2 linked regions of the Homo sapiens genome follow. The protein of the gene in region 2 purifies or fractionates together with the protein of the main gene of each other region. This does not show direct contact. Each region holds a gene or a part of one and is shown on either strand. Other genes may lie near its edges.

The links.
Region 1: the proteins of DNAJC6 (region 2) and CLTA purify together in Homo sapiens (affinity purification with mass spectrometry; 2 studies listed by BioGRID and IntAct, with this or other methods). This does not show direct contact.

The regions. Positions count from the first base shown.
Region 1 is NC_000009.12:36,200,191-36,210,012, reverse strand, and holds part of CLTA (clathrin light chain A), read right to left. Parts: intron 5,946-9,822; coding exon 5,834-5,945; intron 5,293-5,833; exon of another isoform or gene 1,459-5,292; intron 747-1,458; coding exon of another isoform or gene 693-746; intron 1-692. UniProt on the Homo sapiens protein: Clathrin is the major protein of the polyhedral coat of coated pits and vesicles.
Region 2 is NC_000001.11:65,303,445-65,313,413, reverse strand, and holds the start of DNAJC6 (auxilin), read right to left. Parts: upstream 3,872-9,969; 5' UTR 3,669-3,871; coding exon 3,476-3,668; intron 2,171-3,475; exon of another isoform or gene 1-2,170. UniProt on the Homo sapiens protein: May act as a protein phosphatase and/or a lipid phosphatase.

The sequences.
Region 1 (9,822 bases), on a different chromosome or scaffold from region 2:
CGTATCAAGACACTTTGACTATCCTGATCTCAAAGCTGGGGGCTTCCCTGTGCTAGGAGACAGGACATCAGAAGCTGACCACTAAATAGCAATTTCTGACATGCAAGACCACAGAGGAACAATTATAGACACCCACTGGAGACAACCCCCTCTGCTCTGGACTCTTCTGCCTGAGGGAGAGGCAAACGACCCCACATTGTTTGAATGAACCAAGTATGGAAAATGCTGCCCCACAGCTCTGATTTTGGCAATGCAAGGTGCTGCTGCTCACTGGCTCCTAACCTCCTGGGACTGCCACCTGCTCCCAGGTGGGGAAACCTCCTTCCCACCTGAGGCAGGCAGGCAACAGGGCATGGCAGCAGTGATGGCAGCCAAGAGCAAGAGAGCAGAGTTCCCCCGAGCCTCAAACCGTTCCCAGATAAGATCGCAAATGACACATTTTGAAAGCGAGTTAGCTTTCTTCCCTCCAAAACCCCAAATATGAAAAATGGCCATCAGAGGATGCAGGGAGTCACAAATCTGGAAGATTCATCAACAGATCATACCCCGCTTATCAATTCTTAGGCAGCCCCCAAAGTGCCAATTTGAAATAATTTAAAAAGCAAAGCAACTTGTGACATAAAAGGAGCATTAACTCTAAACAAAAGTAGAAAGAATCAGATGTAGAAAAAGGAATTAGTTTTGCAACATACACATAACCAATCACGTCAGCGAAGGGTTGTTTGTAGAAAGCTTCATCTGCCACCCTAGACAGCAAGAGGTCCAAAAGGCAGGCAAGCAGGCAGGAAAAAAGAGAGAACATTGAGAAGCAGAAACATCTAAAATCCACAATTGAGGTACAACTGTGCTCTGAGGAGCTGCTCCCAAGGCTCCTTCCTAACCCCCGTGAGGCTTCCAGCGCTGGAGACTTCAGCAGGCCTGGTTTCCCGCTGGCCTTCCCACGTGGGGACTGCTCCACGACAGAGCAAGCACTGCCAACTTCATCCCTTTGGCTCACCCCAGCAACACGGGCATTTATTAAGCACCCAATCATGGACTAAGCCCTTTCACATACATTATGTTGATTCAATCCTTAACTGTTAACAACCTATGACCCTGACTGTTCTCACCCCCACTGTACAGATGAGGTAACTGAGGCTTAGAGATGAACAACTTGCTCAGCTACACCACAGTGGCAGCATTCAGGACTCACAACCAAGGCAGCCTGGCCCTAAGTCCAGGGCTCTTTCTACTGTATAGTCATGCTTCTTCCCTGCTGTATGTGCCCAGAAAGCCACGCCACCTTCCTGTTTCAGTTAATGCACTGGGCAGGAATGCTGCCAGACACCAGATGCGCTAGGACCCAAAGCCAGTTTTATCTTGGATTATCTAACTACTGCTTCCCCACACTGTCTGGGTGGGATACACTTCCAGAATCCTGGGAACACATATCGTCATTTTAAAATCTCAACCTTACAGGAAAAAACGGCTGGAGGTGAGTGGTCTGGTGGGAAGAACACTGGACTAGGATCCTGGCCCTGGCTTCTGTTGTTCCTGAATATGGCTCTCTCTCTACTCAAGAAGCGGGTACAGTTTCTGAATATTTTTACACCAGACTCAATTGGCTTTGATAAGGTGCAGCCCAGAATCCAGAACTTCATCCCTTCTTAACTCTCAACATGGCAGGGCTCTCAGACAGGAAGGAGGGGGCAGACTGGGTGGATAAATTTTGACAGCAGGGGCCAGGCTGGCTTTGACTCTGTTGTCCTGGACTGACTCCCTGGGCTCTGCCAGCCCACTCTTCTCCACTGTGGCTGGACATGGAACCTCCCTCATGGAGTCTTACCCTGTCCTTTGTCAAGTCGATTTGGGGTGGGCAAGGGGAAAGACATTTTTCAAGGATAATCATGCCTGGTCATTAAGCTAACCTCACATACTTATTTGAAGGCAAATTCTAGTAATTTTAAGTTAATTTTTAAGCTCACACATGCCCTTCCTTCTTTCCCATTTTGTTTTATACACAGGAGGTGTTTTGTGGAAATTTAAAGAAAGCAAAAAGAGCAGGCTGATTATAACTTAAAGTGACTCAGCAGGAAAACAGAGTTGTTTGTGGGCAGAATGAGTGGGAGGAAAAGGCAAGGCAGGCTGGCTTATAAACCCATAACCCTTTTAGTTTACACAAAGGACTAAACCTGATCGATTTCAACTTGGGTTTCCCTCCACAAGAAGAGTAGAGGTTTCATGACTCCTGTCAAATCATCACTAAGACAACAAAAGTTTGAATGTCAGGCTCTTGCTCCTTTGCAGCTAGCCCAAGACCAAAGAGCTCCTCAGTGACAAGCACATCCCCTGTCAAGGTTGCAGGCCCAGAACAAACAGAAAATCAGACACACACACAGGTGGCCCTCCCCTTATTTGTCCTTCACTTGAAAGTAGCAATCCTCAGCCAAGGCAGGAAGGGGCTCAGGGAGGCTTAGGAGAGGGGAGGGAAGAGGAATACCTGACCTAGGACAAGCTCTGGAGGCACGAATACAATGCAGAACTTCATTCCATAAACAGCCTCAAAGTGGGCACAGAAAAAAATGTTTGCCATCTCTGAGAACTGTGGGTTCCCCAAACCTTCTCAAGCCTTGAAAGAGCTGACAAGCACAAGTGCTACCTGTAATAGGGGAAATGTTCTGGGGTTGTTCTTGATGAGCAAACTCATCCAGCTGCAGGAGTCAGTCACTGCTCTGGCTGGCTGGCTATGAAAAGGAAATTCTTTTCCATGGCTGTCACTGAATAATTCACAGCTCTTGTACTGTGACACTTAGGCCTCAACTTGGGATAAAAGAAGGGAGATGCAGTCTGGGGACTGACAATAGAGTACAGCACACCCACCCCCAGTGCAGTGCCAGGCGCGACGTGCTCCTAGTGCTTTGGTGACCCAGTGGTGAGGCAGCTGGAAGGCAGGAGGCCTGAGGATGCTCTCACAATTAACTGGATGCCCTTCCTGTCTCCGACTTTCCTCTTTCAAACTTCTCATCTTTCTGCCTTATCTCTCGGGTCCCCTTAACATCTAGCTACTGCAGAAGTCACCCAGAGAGAATCATACTTGCTTGAAATGAGCACCCCGTTTTCTTTTTTCTTTTCTTTTTTTCAGACTGAGTCTCGCTCTGTTGCCCAGGCTGGAGTGCAGTGGCGCAATCTCAGCTCACTGCAACCTCTGCCTCCCGGGTTCTAGTGATTCTCCTGCCTCAGACTCCCGAGTTGCTGGGATTACAGGCACACACCACCACACCCAGTTAATTTTCGCATTTTTAGTAGAGATGGGGTTTCACCATGTTGGGCAGGCTGGTCTCAAACTCCTGACCTCAAGTGATCTGCCCGCCTCAGCCTCCCAATGTGCTGGAATTACAGATGTTGAGTCACGGTGTCCGGCCCCCATTTTCTTTTCTAAAAATATTCACTCTTTACCCATAGACAGATAACAAGGATGAATTACTTTATACATCTAAATGGGACCTATTCCTTTGAACTCTAAAGTTTAGAGTCAAACATGGATGGAGAGGGGGAGTAGTCAGCAATATAAAAATCTCCAGGGGAGGGTGTAGACCCTTGGAAGAAGTCCCCCAAAGTGACTCTCAAATGGATCCCACCTCCAACCAGTGAAGAATCACTGGAATAAACTGTAAAAACCATCTCTTCTGTCCTAGAGCCCTGGTGACAATGGCTAGTGTGCCACTAGCGTTATGCTCTCAAGAGTCAGCCCTGTGCTGCAAGGTTCCCACAAGGCAAGTGACCTGCTTCCTAAGCAGCTCTACATTCTCAGTGAGCAGTGGGGAAGTTCCTTCTCTCTGGAACTTAAGAGGTTCATCTGTGAGACCAGCTTACCCAGCATTCTACAGTTCCAAGTACAGAAAGGTACCAAGGCCCAAATTCAATGCCTGGAGGGACTAAACTTTTAAGACTGAGCTCCTAAAAACAGGTGTCATGGCCAGGCGCGGTGGCTCACGCCTGTAATCCCAGCACTTTGGGAGGCCAAGGAAGGCAGATCACGAGGTCAGGAGATCGAGACCATCCTGGCTAACACAGTGAAACCTTGTTTCTACTAAAAACAGAAAAAAATTAGCTGGGCATGGTGGCGGGCACCTGTAGTCCCAGCTACTCGGGAGGCTGAGGCAGGAGAATGGCGTGAATCCAGGAGGTGGAGCTTGCAGTGAGCCGAGATCGCACCACCGCACTCCAGCCTGGGCAACAGAGCAAGACTCCATCTCAAAAAAAAAAAAAAAAAAAAAACAGGTGTCATTACTCCCTCTGAGAACAACGGATTCTGTATACAGAGAATATCCCTTTCTTGACAGTTCAGCAAAACTTCCTTGAAAAAAATTTCTGCAACAGAAAGGCTGTTACCAACATATTCATTATCTAAGTTTGAAAACTTGTGTTAAGTTATTGACGCATCACAGACCCAGAGCGGGGAGGGTCGGCACAGCTACAGTACTTCAGACTAAACTTAAATGCTGGGGTCGCAGGCTGGGGGAGTTCTCAGGGCTCGCAGGGTGCTTGCACACAGTCCCCACTCGGCTTTACCGATCTGAACTTCCACCTGGGAGAAAATCATCTTGAGGGAGCAGAGGACACAGGAGCCTGGACCTGTCAGCACCACCTACTGACCACAGGCTCAACAACAGCCCCACGTAGCTGATGGAAGCCATCACCACTGGCAACCCAGCCTGCACACCAGAGAGCAGTCCTGTGGGACTGGGACTGTGGAGTCCTGTGGACTCCACATGGAACCTGACAGGCACTCCTTGAGCACACCGCCCCCAGAGGAAAGTGACCAGGACACAGGCTCAAGCCGGAATCCAATGAGCTGAAGGGCTGCTAGCATATAAAAGAGAGTCCAACTGCTCTGTCATACTGGACCCACAATAGCACTGGCTGGCTGGCAAAGCCGTTAGCTCTCTCTCCTGCCACATCTCTGTCTAACAGAGCTGCCAGAGACAAGGGCACTTAACCCAACCTGCTTCCTGCCTCTGCATACGAGAACCCAAGGCTCTACCCTGAAAATTAAAAATATCCCCAGGCTCGGTCTGGCCCGTTTATACACTGAAGTGAATGGATTGACTATTCAGTGAAAGTTGGGCTCTGAACCTGCCTGCCCTGAGGGAAGCAACACCACATATCCTCTCTTTGCTGCTTCCAAGAAGGGCTCTAAGTGTAGGGCATTAAAGCCCAGCTGCTGGTGAGTAGTGATATGAGAATGAAAGCGTTTTTCTCCTCACAACTCCTTAACCATCAGTAACTAAATAAAATCTATTTCAAACAGAACATTTTTAAGAAGTCAATTCAAGACTTTTTAAGGCACAAATAAGTACCCACAGAACCCTCAATTCTAAAATAATCATGTTGGAACATCCTTGGCTGCCTAATTACAAAGCACATATTCCTGCCAACGGACCCCTTCATGAAGTGGCTTTCAGGGGGCAGGGCTATATTGAGGAGACTCAACATGACCAAGTCTATAATCATATCCAAAGTAACTAGATCTGGGTGTATTCATGACACCCAGCTTTCGTTTCAGGGTTCCATGGAAAGTAACTTTTCCCTTGGCTGAATCACACCATTACAGGTTATGCATATTAACCAAACTCTCAGAGAGCTAAGCTCACTACAATTGGGATGGCTAAACAATAGGGTGAATTATGCTCACAAGACCCGAGAGACTTGCAACCTGTTTCAAGCACTTTCTTTAAAAACTGCAGACATTTCACACTAAAGGAGGCAGAAGCCAAAAACCGAGACTGGATGCTGAGAATGGATTTGATTCAATTTTGGAAAACAAAGTGTGCTACAACCACCACGGACTGACCTGTTGTTTGCTTTTGTTTTCTGTAGCTGCTCGTCCTGTCTTGCATACCATTCTTCTAGCTCCTTTATTGCCTTTTCTTTCCACTCTGCTTCTTGCTTCCGAGAATTGGCATCTTTGAAGGGAGAGAAGAGAAAGACAATACAATTGAGGCAAAGTGCAAACTGAAGTTCATCAGTTTATTTTGGTCTTGCTGAACTTGTGGTGGGTGCAGGTCCATGTCTGTGTGCCTGTTGGGGGAGAAGAGTAGAGAGGGGAAGATAAACTTCTGTTTTCTCTGTTTGCACAACCAACTCTGATTTCAGTGCTTCTATTCCTGCCTGGTCTTTCCCACAGTCCTATTCCTGGTCTTATCCCAGTCCACTGACATCTTAGTGGGTCATTAGTTTTGTTTTGTCTTGTTTTGGGCAGAGCAAAAGAGAAGGGTGTATGTGGAAATACTGACTTCTATTATTAATAGGAAAAAAGCCTTCTGGGCACCAATTGGGGGAGAAACAATTATAGATGATTCTTTACCAATGCTGCCAATATTAGTTCATAGTAGGGTATTCATCTTAATCTTTTACCTCTTCTCCCAAACTAGTCCATATTCCAGGTTTGACAATGGTTTTGTGGAACACAAGGTGGCACTCTCATAACTAAATATGGTAGAAGCACTTCTGTGAGGCAGGGTGCTATTAGGACAATTACCAAAGGTAGAGATGATTCAGGAACCAGAGAATGATAGAACACAGAATATTAGCACTAGAGAGGACCACAAAGCATCTACTCCTACTTGGTCTGCAGTGTGTTTGTGGCAGAGCCAGGGCAGAGCTACAAAAGAAACTCCACTGGAGAGAAGTGCAGGGGGTAGAGGTATGGGATCATTGCTAACAGTTAACCTAAAGGTTCTAGAAATGACAGCAAGAAAATGCATACCTAGCAGGTTTGCTAGATTGGATTCTCAAACATGAAACATGAAGTTTCTGAGGACTAAATATGGTTTTCTCTAAGACACTAAGCTGAAGAGACATACATCAGTAGATAGTGAGAGATAAAGAAATACATGCCGGCTGCTTGTGGTGGCTCACGCCTGTAATCCCAACACTTTGGGAGGCCGAGGCAGGTGGATCATCTGAGGTTAGGAGTTCGAGACCAGCCTGGCCAACATGGTAAAATCCCGTCTCTACTAAAAATACAAAAAATTAGCTGGATGTGGTGGTGCATGCCTATAATCCCAGCTACTGGGGATTACTGGGGAGGCTGAGGCAGGAGAATCGCTTGAATCTGGGAGGCAGAGGTTGCAGTGAGCTGAGATCGCACCACTGCACTCCAGCCTAGGCAACAAAGTGAGACTCTGTCTCAAAAAAGAAAAAAAAAAAAAAGAAATACATGTCATAGCTACTGAGGCAGCTGACACTTGAAGTTAACCTGATACTTCACTTTAAACAAGTTCTTCTGTCTGGCAGGTGTTTTATAGACATCTAACTCAATCTTTACAACAATCCCAAGAAGGTAAACTCTGATCACATTTTCAGCAGTGAGAAAAACTAAAGCTCAGAAAGTTTGAGTGAATTTCCTAAAGGTTATAGTAAGTGACAGAGCCAAGATTCAAACCCAGATCTGGCTGTAAAGCTTACACTTTGCTTACCTCATTATGCTTCCTCCAAAGGGAGGGACAGAAAGGGAGGCAAGCCTAGAAATAATCACAAAACGTGACCACCAGTGATCTGGACAGAGTTTTGAAAGTGCAGACCAAGAGCCCAAACTGTAATTAGTGTCTTTGAGAAGGAGAGTAGATAGCAGTAGCGGTGTCAAGTAACTACTAGAAGGGATGAAAAATGAAGTATTCTTGGGCATTTTTAGGGCCTTTGCAAGAAAGGTCTTATAGTAACAACCTGCAAAAGGCTGTGTGTAACTATAAGAAAAAGCCTAATAGCAGCTAGAAACTCCCCCAAGTTTCAGGTTAGTAGGAACGTTCATCTCGGTATCTAATTTGTCGGAAGGTGATCTGTCGTTCAGAAGAATCATTTTCTCAGATTTTTCACTGATGACTCTAAAGTATATACAGTAAACTTTTTTTTGTTTTATTTGAGATAGGGTCTCGCTCTGTAGCCCAGGCTGTACTGCAGTAGTTCTATCACAGCTCACTGCAGCCTCAATCTCCCAGGCTCAAGTGATCCTCCCACCTCAATCTCCTAAGCAGCTGGGACCACAAGCGTGCACCACAACCCCCAGCTAATTTTTTTTTTTTAGTAGAGATAGGGTCTCACTATGGTGCCCAGGCTGGTCTTGAACTCCTGAGCTCAAGTGATCCTCCCACCTCAGCCTCCTAAAGTGCTGGGATTACAGACCTGAGCCACACCACCTAGCCTCTACAGTAAACATCTAATATGTGTCTATCCATGGCATGAAGTACAGATGTGGAATGCAAGATTTAGCTATGCTGCAATGAGAAGCTGTGGGCTGGAAGTGCCATGTGACAATACCTAATTCAAAATGTAAGGCCCCCTTTTCAATCATGGTGAAATTACTTCCAAATAATTACCTTTTTGATTGGACAGTATTTTCTTTCAATGTATTTTGATGTTAACATTTACTATACATTAGGACTAAAATATAAAATTTATCTCTGAAAAATGAAATTAAATAAAAATGGTGACCTCCTGAACAGACTGTGGTTACTGCATAAAATAGTACATTTAAATTGGTCTTCTGGCTTTTGCAGCTTTAGTGCCACTGCAATACTAATTTAGAATTCTTCCCCTCAGAGGATGAAGAGGAAGAGTCCCCTTAGAGAGCAAAGCACATTCACAGGTGCCTTCCCTTCTGGCCACCCTCGTTACTGGTCAGAGAAAAGAAAATTACTTGAGAATGTAGCCAGCAGCTAGGCTGAAAACCACTGGCACCGGTTCTCTATTTTTAGCATCGCGTGCTTTCTCACAGTTTTTGCAAGGAAAAAAGGTGAAATTGAAGGAACACCTTGTTCATGAACCAAGTGAATTCAATTCAGTTGGAATGCAAGGCCAAATGTTGTACTTCTCTCAAAAAAAGCACTTTGAATTAAGAAAACAGCTCATAAGAGTATTCCCCAAGTACCCAATTTCATAATTGAAAAATTAAATCTTTCCAGACACCAAAGTAGACTCTCTCCATGGAGAAGAAAAACTGCTAGAGCTTGGTAAAACAGAAAAGATAAATTTGGGTTCTGTAACATGAAAAATACTACAGCAGTACTAAGACCAGCTAAATCTTGCCTCTAAGCATACTCAAGAGACACAAAGAACAAGCAAGGACCAAAGCTGTTAGGACCTATTTTCATCTTCCTACAGCTCCACTGTCCAATATGGTAGCTACTAGCTACATGTGGCTACTTCAATGTAAATTTATTAAAATTAAAGAAAATTTAAAATTCAGTTTCTCAGTCACACTTGAATTGTGAAGCCACACTTCAAGTACTTAACAGTTACATGTGGTTAGTGGCTACCATACGAGACAGCACAGATACAGAATATTTCCACCAAAGAAATCACTAATGAATGGTGCTATAAAGGTTCAAATACTAAGTGCATTCTTTGTTCTGAAAGCCACCTAAATTGGACTAGAGAGATAAATGATTTGGCACTAATTGGCTGTGTCATCTGGGTCATGTCCCTTCCTATTTCTGGGTGTCAGTTATCCCATCTGAAAAATAAGGACTCATGTTTTCACTAGTTCAACAGTTCCCAAGAGGGAATAATACTGCTGACGTTGTGGTTACATAGGAGAATGTCATTATTTCTAGGAGGTGTACATTGAAATATTTAGACACAAAGTATATGATGTCTTTATCTTAAAGTAGGTCAGCCAAAACAATTTGTGTGTGTGTATGTCTAAAACATATCATTTATATAAAGATAATCCATTAATTACTGAATCTGGGGGTGCACATGTTTATTTTCCTCCTTTCAATTGTTCTGTAAAGTTGAGAAAAGATGAATCTTAAAGTCAGCTGATTAAAAAAAGAAAAAGAA
Region 2 (9,969 bases):
CTCTGTGGTAAGAACAGCTCTTATGATTCCACTTTTATAAATGGGAACAGGCCAAGCATGGTGGTTCATGTCTGTAATCCGAGCACTTTGGGAGGGAGGCCGAGGTGGTCAGATCGCTTGAGCCCAGGAGTTTGAGACCAGCCTGGGCAACATGGCAAAAAACCCCATCTCTACAAAGAAAAAAAAAAAAAAAATTAGCCAGGCATGGTGGTTCATACCTGTAGTCCCAGCTACTCAAGAGGCTGAGGCAGGAGGGTCATTTGAGCCCAGGAGGTCCAGACTGCAGTGAGCCATGATCACACCACTGCACTCCAGCCTGGGCAATGGAGCAAGACCCTGTAATCACAGCACTTTGGGATGTCAAGGCGGGCAGATCACTTGAGACCAGGAGTCCGAGACCAGCCTGGCCAACATGGCAAGAGCCCGTCTCTACTAAAAATACAAAAATTAGCCGGGTGTGGTGGTGCACGCCTGTAATCCCAGCTACTTGAGGGGCTGAAACACAAGAATTGTCTGAACCCGGGAGGTGGAGGTTGCAATGAGCTGAGATCGCACCACTGCACTCCAGCCTGGGTGACAGAGCTATCTGTCTAGAAAAGAAAAGAAAAAGGTTACTAGGTTTTTCAGCGAGTAACAATAATGCAGAGGTTTGATCCCAAGTCTCCAAGCACAGACACATGCTGCTTCCCCAACCTATTTAATAAAATTCTGGGGAAATGAAATAAGAGAATTGTCCAAGTGTTCTATTATAAACAGTCTTACAAGTTTAAGGTATTATTAAGACTAAGCTTTAAATCATGTAGCGAGATGTCAACATATTTTTTCCACTCATTAATATTTCTATCAGAGCAAAAGTCCCATAAACCACTGATCCTATCCAGCATGTCACAGTACAATCAGTTGAATAAATGGGCAGATTACTGCCACTTTAGAAATGATCCATGAACTTAATTAGATATACTAAACAAATGGATATATTTACACTGCACAGGCCACACTTTGAGGATCTTAGAAGAAAGAACTATAATTAGGCAAGACATATAGTTGTACTAGTAAAAGAATCCTACTCTCAGAGTCCAATCCTTCATTCAAACCAAACAAATCATTCTCAGTTGAAAATATGCATCAAAATCATTGTAAGATACCCTGTACTTCTACAACAAAGCCACAATATTCCCCTAATAAAATATAGGAGTGAATGATGGATAAGGGGAGGAGAAAAGGAATCCCTGCAGCCTCTTCACACAACACCACTTTGATCAAGTTTAAGAATCAACTCCTGGCAATAGCACTTTAGAGATAACAATATTCTTAATGAAACACTTTCCCATCACAACAGATTATTAAAGCAATCCATTATTCTTCTCTCCACCTATTAAAAAAGTCTGATTTAGTGAAAAAGACAATCCTCAAAAATCCAGGACTTACCATAGGCTGCTCTGTGTTATAGTTACTGCCCCCACTGAGAGTCCCCTAGAGGCCAGAAGGATCTCATTCACTACTGTGTTCCCTCACAGTGCTTGGCACATAGCTGGGCTCAGAAAATGTATGTTGAACTTATTCTACAATGTAACATATTTCAAAAACCAATTTCAACTCTTAAAATAATAATCCCTATGAAAAAGGAAAACATATGTATTTCATATTTCTTTCATTTTCCTGAAGTGAGGCTCCTTCACACTCATTTGGAATATGTTTGTTTTCATTTCAATTGTTTACATGCTCACTACATGTAAACATTATTATGGTGGCATCATTCAGAGAACATGAATCTTTTTAAGATTTAAAGGAGATTACATCCAGTCAAAAGATGGATTACACTTTGATATATCACAGATTTGAAAAAACATACATTGAATAACCACATACAACATCAATAAAAAAGTCCTGCCTGGGCGCGGTGGCTCATGCCTGTAATCCCAGCACTTTGGGAGGCCGAGGCAGGCAGATCACCTGAGGTCAGGAGTTCAAGACCAGCCCGGCCAACATGGCAAAACCCCGTCTCTACTAAAAGTACAAAAATTAGCCGGGCATGGTGACAGGTGCCTGTAATCCCAGCTACTCAGGAGGCTGAGGCAGGAGAATCGCTTGAACCCGGGAAACGGAGTTTGCAGTCCGCCGAGTTCGCATCCCTGCACTCCAGCCCGGGCAACAGAGTGAGACTCCGCCTCAAAAAAAAAAAAAAAAAAAAAAAAAAACAGTCCTGAAACCATCAATCCCTTGGGGATCATTTTAGTTTTATTTAAAATGGTCTAAGAGAATGTCCCATCAATATCTTGGTTAACTTCAATAAGAGCTTCAATGAGTAGAATTTGTTTTCAGCCCAGGACATTTGAGCATCTGTGGACAATATTTCATCCCACTTTGGGACAAGGAAAATAGAAAATAATAGCCCAAGGACAGCCATTACACAATTAAAATAAACAAGCATTTGTTTGCAAAGCAGGGCATTTAAATTCAGTTTGATTTCATTACTGTTCAAACGACCCCATATGAATCTTTCCTCTGGAATCCTCAGTTGTCCAGTATTAAAGTTACCAGTGTAGAACCAACCACTGAGGACTTCAATTATAAATATCTCTGTAAACAATTCTCCGAACCTGGTTCCCTGCAGAAGTAAGCAAATAGCTATAATAATACTCCTAGTCCAACATGGATATATTAAATGACTGTTTTGCTATTGAAATCGCAAATGCCAACAGCAGTTCCAAGAGAGGACTCTAACTTGCCAAACCTTTTATAAAAGACAGTTGCAAGCCCCGATACAAAGTTTAGAGGAATTTCCTTGTCCCTACATGTAAAGGTTTATGAAATCTGTACACTCAAGCAAAAGGACAAACAAGATCAAAGCCAACACATGAAATAAATTTCATTGTGCAAACAGTAAAAGCTGTGTAAAAGAGCTCTAGATCCCAGGTTAAAAACTGCAGGAGAAAGGTAACATTAACCCTAGCAGACGGCTGAGTTAAGATGTGGCAGAGCTTTACAGAATTGCAAATAGCATCAGCATTGCAAGAATAACAATTGGAATAAATACCGTCTGCATGCTGCAAAAACAATCAACGCACATGCTCCTTCACCTCTCCCCCTCATCCAGCTGGGCAGTGAAAGCAGCTGCCTCTCCCAGCCCTCCTCCCAAGCCGTTCTTCGCCCCACCCGCTCCCCTCTCTTCTCCACCCCTCCCCTCCTCCTTCCCTCCCCCTCCCCGCCCCCAGCTGCCGTATTCAGCAGTCTAGAGAGATTAGGAGGAGCTCGCTACAGTCTCTGGGCCTCAGGACTGATCTAACGTTTCGTAGCTCCCTGGATGAGAGAAATTAGAGACTCGACACCCAGGTGGTATTAGAAGCCTTCGCCTCCAGCCCGGCTCTCTCGCAAACCGGGGCTGGGGGACCACGGGGGGGCCTCGGGCCGGGCGACTGGGAGGCTCCGGAGGCCGCGCGGGGCTCAGCGCTGCACTCCCCTCGGGCAGCGCTACCTGAGCTGTCCATGGTGCTGGCGCGGTCCGGAGGCTGTCGGGCGGGACTCCGCGCCGCTGCCCCGGCGTTCACTCTCTGCTTGCCGCCAACCCCGCCGCTTCCCGCACTTAAGTCCCCGTTACTGTCCACCAGCTGCAAAGATTCATAACCATCGTTGCTGGTCTTTTTCCGGTAGCTCCCGAGGAGGCTCATGGGCAAGCCCGGAGAAAAGAGAAAATAATCAACCTGGGAAGCGAAAAGGGAGATGGAAGGTGGAAAGGGCTGAAGAAGGAATTAAAAAAAAAAAAAAATTAAGTGCCCGACATGACGCAAAGAGGAGGGAAAAGAAGGAGCGGCCACCGGAGAGAAGCTTCGCCGGGCGAGGCGAAGCCGCCGCCCTGGGCTGAGCTCGGCTCGGGGCGCCGGGAGGAGGGAGGGAGGGAAGGAGACGCGGCCGGGCGGGGGCGCGCGTCCTCTGGGCCAACGCCGCGGAGCCGCCCGGCCCTGCCGAGCTCCGGGCCCCAGGCCAGCACCTCCTGGCTGAGGAGTGCCCGGAAGCAATCCTATAGGTGTCGCCGCGTCGCCCCGCCGCGCAGCAGGGCAGCGCCAAAGCCGCTGGCCCGCGGGGAGGGAAGGAAAGGGAGGTAGGAAGGGAGGGGAGGTTCGTGAGGAGGGGGGTTGAAGGGAAACGGGGCGGGGTGGTCGGGGGAGGGGACTACTACGACGTGGGTTGGGAGGGTGTGTTCGCACGCGTGTGACAGAGAAGAAAGGGGCGAGGTATCTCGGCCTGCGAAGCTTTGAGGACCAGGGGTCTTGTGGTAAAATCCAGACACACCCATTTCATGCAACTTAGCCTATTTTCACCGGAAGATTCCGCCAAAGCCACCAGGACGGTAACCGTCCTAGAGAACTGACTTGTAACTCAATTCAACAGAAAAAGAATGCATGTTAAGTGCCAGAATATATCTATGCTAGGATATAAAGGAAGAGCAATATTTTGCACATTCTCCAGAATAGGGATGATCCCTAAGGGAGATATCAAAGAGTTGGGTATTCTAATACTAGGAGGCAGCGTCCGTTCTGCCTAGAGAGCAGATGTGACTGTTTAGAACTCTTTGTTGAGCGAATAAACTGGGGAGAAGGGCAAGGTTAAGTCCGACGCATTTTCAGATCCGCCACCATTTACCTTAGGACCTGGAGAAAAGACTGTTTCAGTTAGCTAGCTTGAAGGCCTGCTTGGGAAGCAAGATAGACAAGGATTTTTTTTCCCCATCCTCTAGCCTCACGCCTTATTTTTCTTTCACAATTCTGGCCAAAGAAAGCAGTAACTCATAATCAGAAGAGAATTTATCATGAAGTTAATTAAGCTGTGTACCTAATTTTGTATCTGTCATCGTGTATTCTTAAAAGAAGACTCCGACATTGTATAAGTTCTGGATCTGAACAAAACCTGGATAAACTCTGGTAAGTCTTAAAATGTAATTATCGAATGTTTATTTTCACCTAAAATAATAAGATTTCAGAAGGATTGCTCATTCTCATCATCTTAGGTCAAGATCAAGTAAGTCTTGGTTAAAAATTATCATTTTCTCTACTAAAACTTGGAGGGACTAAGTGAGGCGCCCGTCAAGAGTCATTTGACAGAGTTTCCTCACCAAAACAGGAAAAAAGTACGTGCATGTAAAATGTACTTGAGCCCATACACAAAGCCAGCTTTGCTTTCTTCTCATCTTACATGGTTTTCTCTTGCTGTCCTTATATCAATCACCTAAGGACACAAAATCAAACAATAGCATCTAAGAGACTTCAGTCCAGATGATTTGGGTCTCAGAAAGTTTCCGGGAAGCTCTAGCTCTACACAGTTCTACATAAAATAAATTGGACTAAGAGACATTTTCCTGTACAAGGATCACCCAAACACAGATTCTTGTAGGAAGAGCATCAACCAGAAGAAGTCCAAAGAAATGTTTTCTAAATCCTTCCAGTCCTTCTGGGGAAACCTAAACTTCCTGGCCAGTTGCTTTCCCAACTGCATTCTTTGATGAGGTATGGTGTGACCTGAATTGCAAATCAGAGTTAATGCTCATTTATAACAAGATCAAACAATCTGAATGGTGGCAGGAAAAACTGCAATAAAAATTTTAAAACAAATTTTTATACTTTCAATTTTCCAAATCTGTCAGATTGAATTATTTTAGTTACTTGACTAAAGTAATAATTCTGTGAAGTCTAGTAAATCTTTTCCCATAACATCTTAAATAATCTTTCTCTGTACTTTTTCTTTTAATTCATTACAGACACACAGGGACAGTAAATACCTAGTGTTCATCATGTGCCCTGACAAATGCTGGACTATAATCATTGGATTAATAGAATTTAGAACCAGCCTCAGTGACAGACTGAGACCCTGTCTCAAAAAATAAATAAATAAATACAGGATCATTTTTGAAAAGTGAAAATTATTATTTTCAAAAAGAGCACTTTCAGTTATTTTTGCTCAACTTGCAGACATATTGCTGAAAGAAATTATAGATGAGACATATGCCTTTGTATTTTTCAATATCTATCTCTGGAGTTTGCAAGTGTAAAGAAAAATCTGAATGGGCTATAAGAATTTTATCTTTATACTTAATATAAATAAAGTCAATCAGGATAACTATTAATAATCCTATAAAATTGAAGATATAAGAAGCATATTAAGGCAGGAAAATACAATAACTAGGTTAATTTACAACAGCCTAAAAACTAGGGCTTGGGCCTAAATTTGGATATGCACCAATTTCAACATTAAAATTTTCTTTACTGTGCTAAAGATCAAATTCATATACTTATCAATGAATATCTCACTGTTCTACTCTATAAAACAAGCATAATATGAGTACCATCATTATATAGAAGAATTAGATTAGTACCTAACATATATATATATATATATATATAGAGAGAGAGAGAGAGAGAGAGAGAGAGAGAGAGAGAGAGAGAGAGAAACAGATTGAGAGAGAGAGTAGTACTTAACAATTGTTCTCTATTACCATTATTGGTCTGTCTTGGGTGCAGCTTTAAGCTCAGCGCCTGGCAGTCTTAGTTTTTCAAATGGGAAAAGCTCAATAAAGGCTAAATATTATTTTTTCCAGGGATATCCTAATGGAAAATTGTCTTTGTAACTTTGAATGAGAATTTGGGCTTAAGGGAGGTGGCACTGGTCAAACACAAGGTGAACATTTACAGCCTAACTCTTGGTTTTCCAAACTCAAGACTACTTCATAACTTATCTCAAAAATACTACATCATACATGAGACAACGGCAAAGGATAAGATGCCCTCTTCTGGGGACAGCAATCATTCCCTTTGTCTTTTCTCTTGCTGCCTTCAGGTGCTTTATTAACTTGATGAAGATTAGTGACACTGAGGAATACTGAGGAACCAGGCTCTATTCCACCCCATCCCCTTCATACACACCTCATTCCAAATGCTATCCTGTCACAGCAGATGCCACATCACTTTTGGGGTGGGCTAAGAGATCAAGGTATGTATGCCATGACCTATGTAGGATTTTGATCTGTGATTTTCATTTCCAGAGAATATAATACATTGATTAAAATTGAAGTTGCCAGCCAGGTGTGGTGGCTCACACCTGTGGTCCTGGCACTTTGGGAGGCTGAGGTGGGCGGATCACGAGGTCAGGAGATTGAGACCATCCTGGCTAACACGGTGAAACCCTGTATCTACTAAAAATCCAAAAAAATAACCAGGCGTGGTGGCAGGCACCTGTAGTCCCAGCTACTCAGGAGGCTGAGGCAGGAGAATCGCTTGAACCCAGGAGGTGGAGCTTGCAGTGAGCCAACAAAGCGAGACTCTGTCTCAAAAAAAAAAAAAAAAAAATTGAAGTTGCCTATGATTGATTCTTAGTTCCAATGACTCCTGGCTCTATGACTTTGGGCAAGTTACTTAACCTCTCTGCCTCATTTTTCTCCTCTGTAAAGTGAGGATTATAGTAATGCCATCATAATAAGGTTATAGTAAGAAGTAAATTAGTTCCTAACATATAATAAGTGCTTAACATATGCTATCTATTATTACTATCATTCCACTTCTTTTTAAAATGTCACTTTTTCAAAAATGCAACTTCCCATCTGTAAAATTAAGTTTAAATCTGCCCAGCTTACCTAAGAGATTTGTTATCATTATGACTATGATAACATAAAAGCAGTTTGTCAAATGTGAACTGATTGTTTTGCCCTGAGTTTTTAAATATTCACGTGTATGTATTTCCTATTGGATTTGGACTCTTTGAGGGCAAAAATCCATGTTTTGTTCATGTTTGTGTCCCCCATGACACTCCAAAGAGCACCTCGCTCTCATTAGATATTGAGTAAATATCTACTGAATTAATGAATAAACAAAAATGTCATGGCATTACCTAGTCCAGTGATTTAAACTATATGCTGTAGCCGATGAGTAAATTATAAAGTATTTTCATAAAAATGAAATAGGTTGGAAAACATCAGAGTTTGGAACGCAGTAAGATATTGTTTCTTAAAATATTGTTTTGGGTTTGTGTGATATGTATGAGTGTGTGTATGTTTCTGCTCAGTAATGATATAAATGTATTTCTCACTGTGTGTCCTGATTATAAATGTTTTTGAATGTCTATGTTATGGGACAATCTCTGGTACTAAGAGGTCCTAGTGTTCCCAATTATGAATGTCCTATACACTGTGACATCTGAATTCATTTGGCTAATTGGACCACAAAGAGTTTTGGCTAAGCAGACAGTAAATGAAGCCAGAGCTTCTACTCTGTTCTCTCTGTTACAAAATATATTATGATCAGGTTTCTAAAATGCGTCTCTTCAATTTTCTGTTTTAACAAACATAAATCAATGCACAGTATTGAAACTTACTTTGGCAATGTGCCTGAGGGCCATAATCCAGATTATCTCCTTATTGAATAAGGCCTATAGATATACATAGTGCAAGGCACTTCAACTGGGGAACATCAAGCCATCTCTGACTCCCAGATGTGTTTTGTCGGTCCTGTACTTCTTAAAATGAAAAACATTTTAGTTTAGATGCCTTTACAGAGGGTATATAGGCTCCAGTCTGAGGACCATAGTTCACTACTACTTCCCAATGTAGAATACTCAGCCTCCTCCACTCATTCCTATTACCAGTTAGCCCTTGCAGGCATTTGAGTTTGAGACCTGCAGTGTAGTGGCAAAACCTTAAGGAGAAATACCCCCAAGAGAGATGCCAAAAGACACATCTTTAGGCCACAGTCCAGAAGAAAGCAAAATAGACCGAGAATCCTCTCCTGACTCTGCTCTTAATCAGCAGGGTGGCCTTGATCCATTCTCCTTCTCTCAGCAGTAAAATCGAAGATGTGGAATTACATGATTCTCTTCAGTTCTCAAAACTTTAGTTGTCACTTCCCTCTCTCCTCCAAATGATGTCCATAGGGGAAAACCATAGTCATTTAAGTGCTACAGTTTGCTGTGTCCCAGTTAATCAAGGTTTTGCTATAGAAATGCATGCATAAATAGTAGCAGCTGTCAAGAGCGACATATAAAGCAACACACAAGATAGAAGAGGAGGTCTGCTGGAAAAAATCGGGTGAGCTGATGGATGACATTTAACAGAAGAAAATCTGAACTATTCCTATAATGTTTCTTAGGAGTGGGGATATCTGTTCTTGGTGTTTGATGGGGTTCTGGGTCTTCCAGAAAATAGGACAAATTTCCCAGGTAGGGCTTTTTTTTTTTCTTTAAGATAACCCAATATCATGAAACCTGTGTTTCCTTGATGCTCTAATAGTAACAAAATAACTGCCATTGATTATTTATCATTTGCCAGGTGCCTTACCTACCTTAAATCTAAAGATTTTATTCTTATTTTGAGGCAGACTTGGAGAGGTTAAGTAACTGGCCCAGGGTTACACAACAATCAGTTAGGATTCAAACCTCCATCTTTCTGATCATGCTTTGGCCACTGAGGCAGCCTAAAGAGGCAATTCCACTGATCAAAGTGAAAGCTGAAGGACATTTAGGTCATTCCTTAGATCTGACCTGCCTTACTAAGTGTGGTCAGTGGAAAATGGTTTGGGCAACTTATGGAAATTGCACTTTGGGAGGCTGAGGCAGGCAGATCACCTGAGGTCGGGAGTTCGAGACCAGCCTGGCCAACATGGTGAAACCCCGTCTCTACTAAAAAACAAACAAACAAACAAACAAAAAATTAGCTGGGCATGGTGCCACGTGCCTGTAGCTCCAGCTACTCAGGAGGCTGAGGCAAGAGAATCACTTGAACCTGGGAGGCAGAGGTTGCAGTGAGCCGAGATCATGCCACTGCACTCCAGCCTGGGTGACAGAGGGAGACTCCGTCTCAAAAAAAAAAAAGAAGAGAGAATCAAATGAGGCGCATGGAAGCACATAATAAACACTAAAGCCCTAAATACTGCATGTTATCAAATCTAAGAAACCATCCATTTTAAGTCACAACATAAGAAAAATATGCTA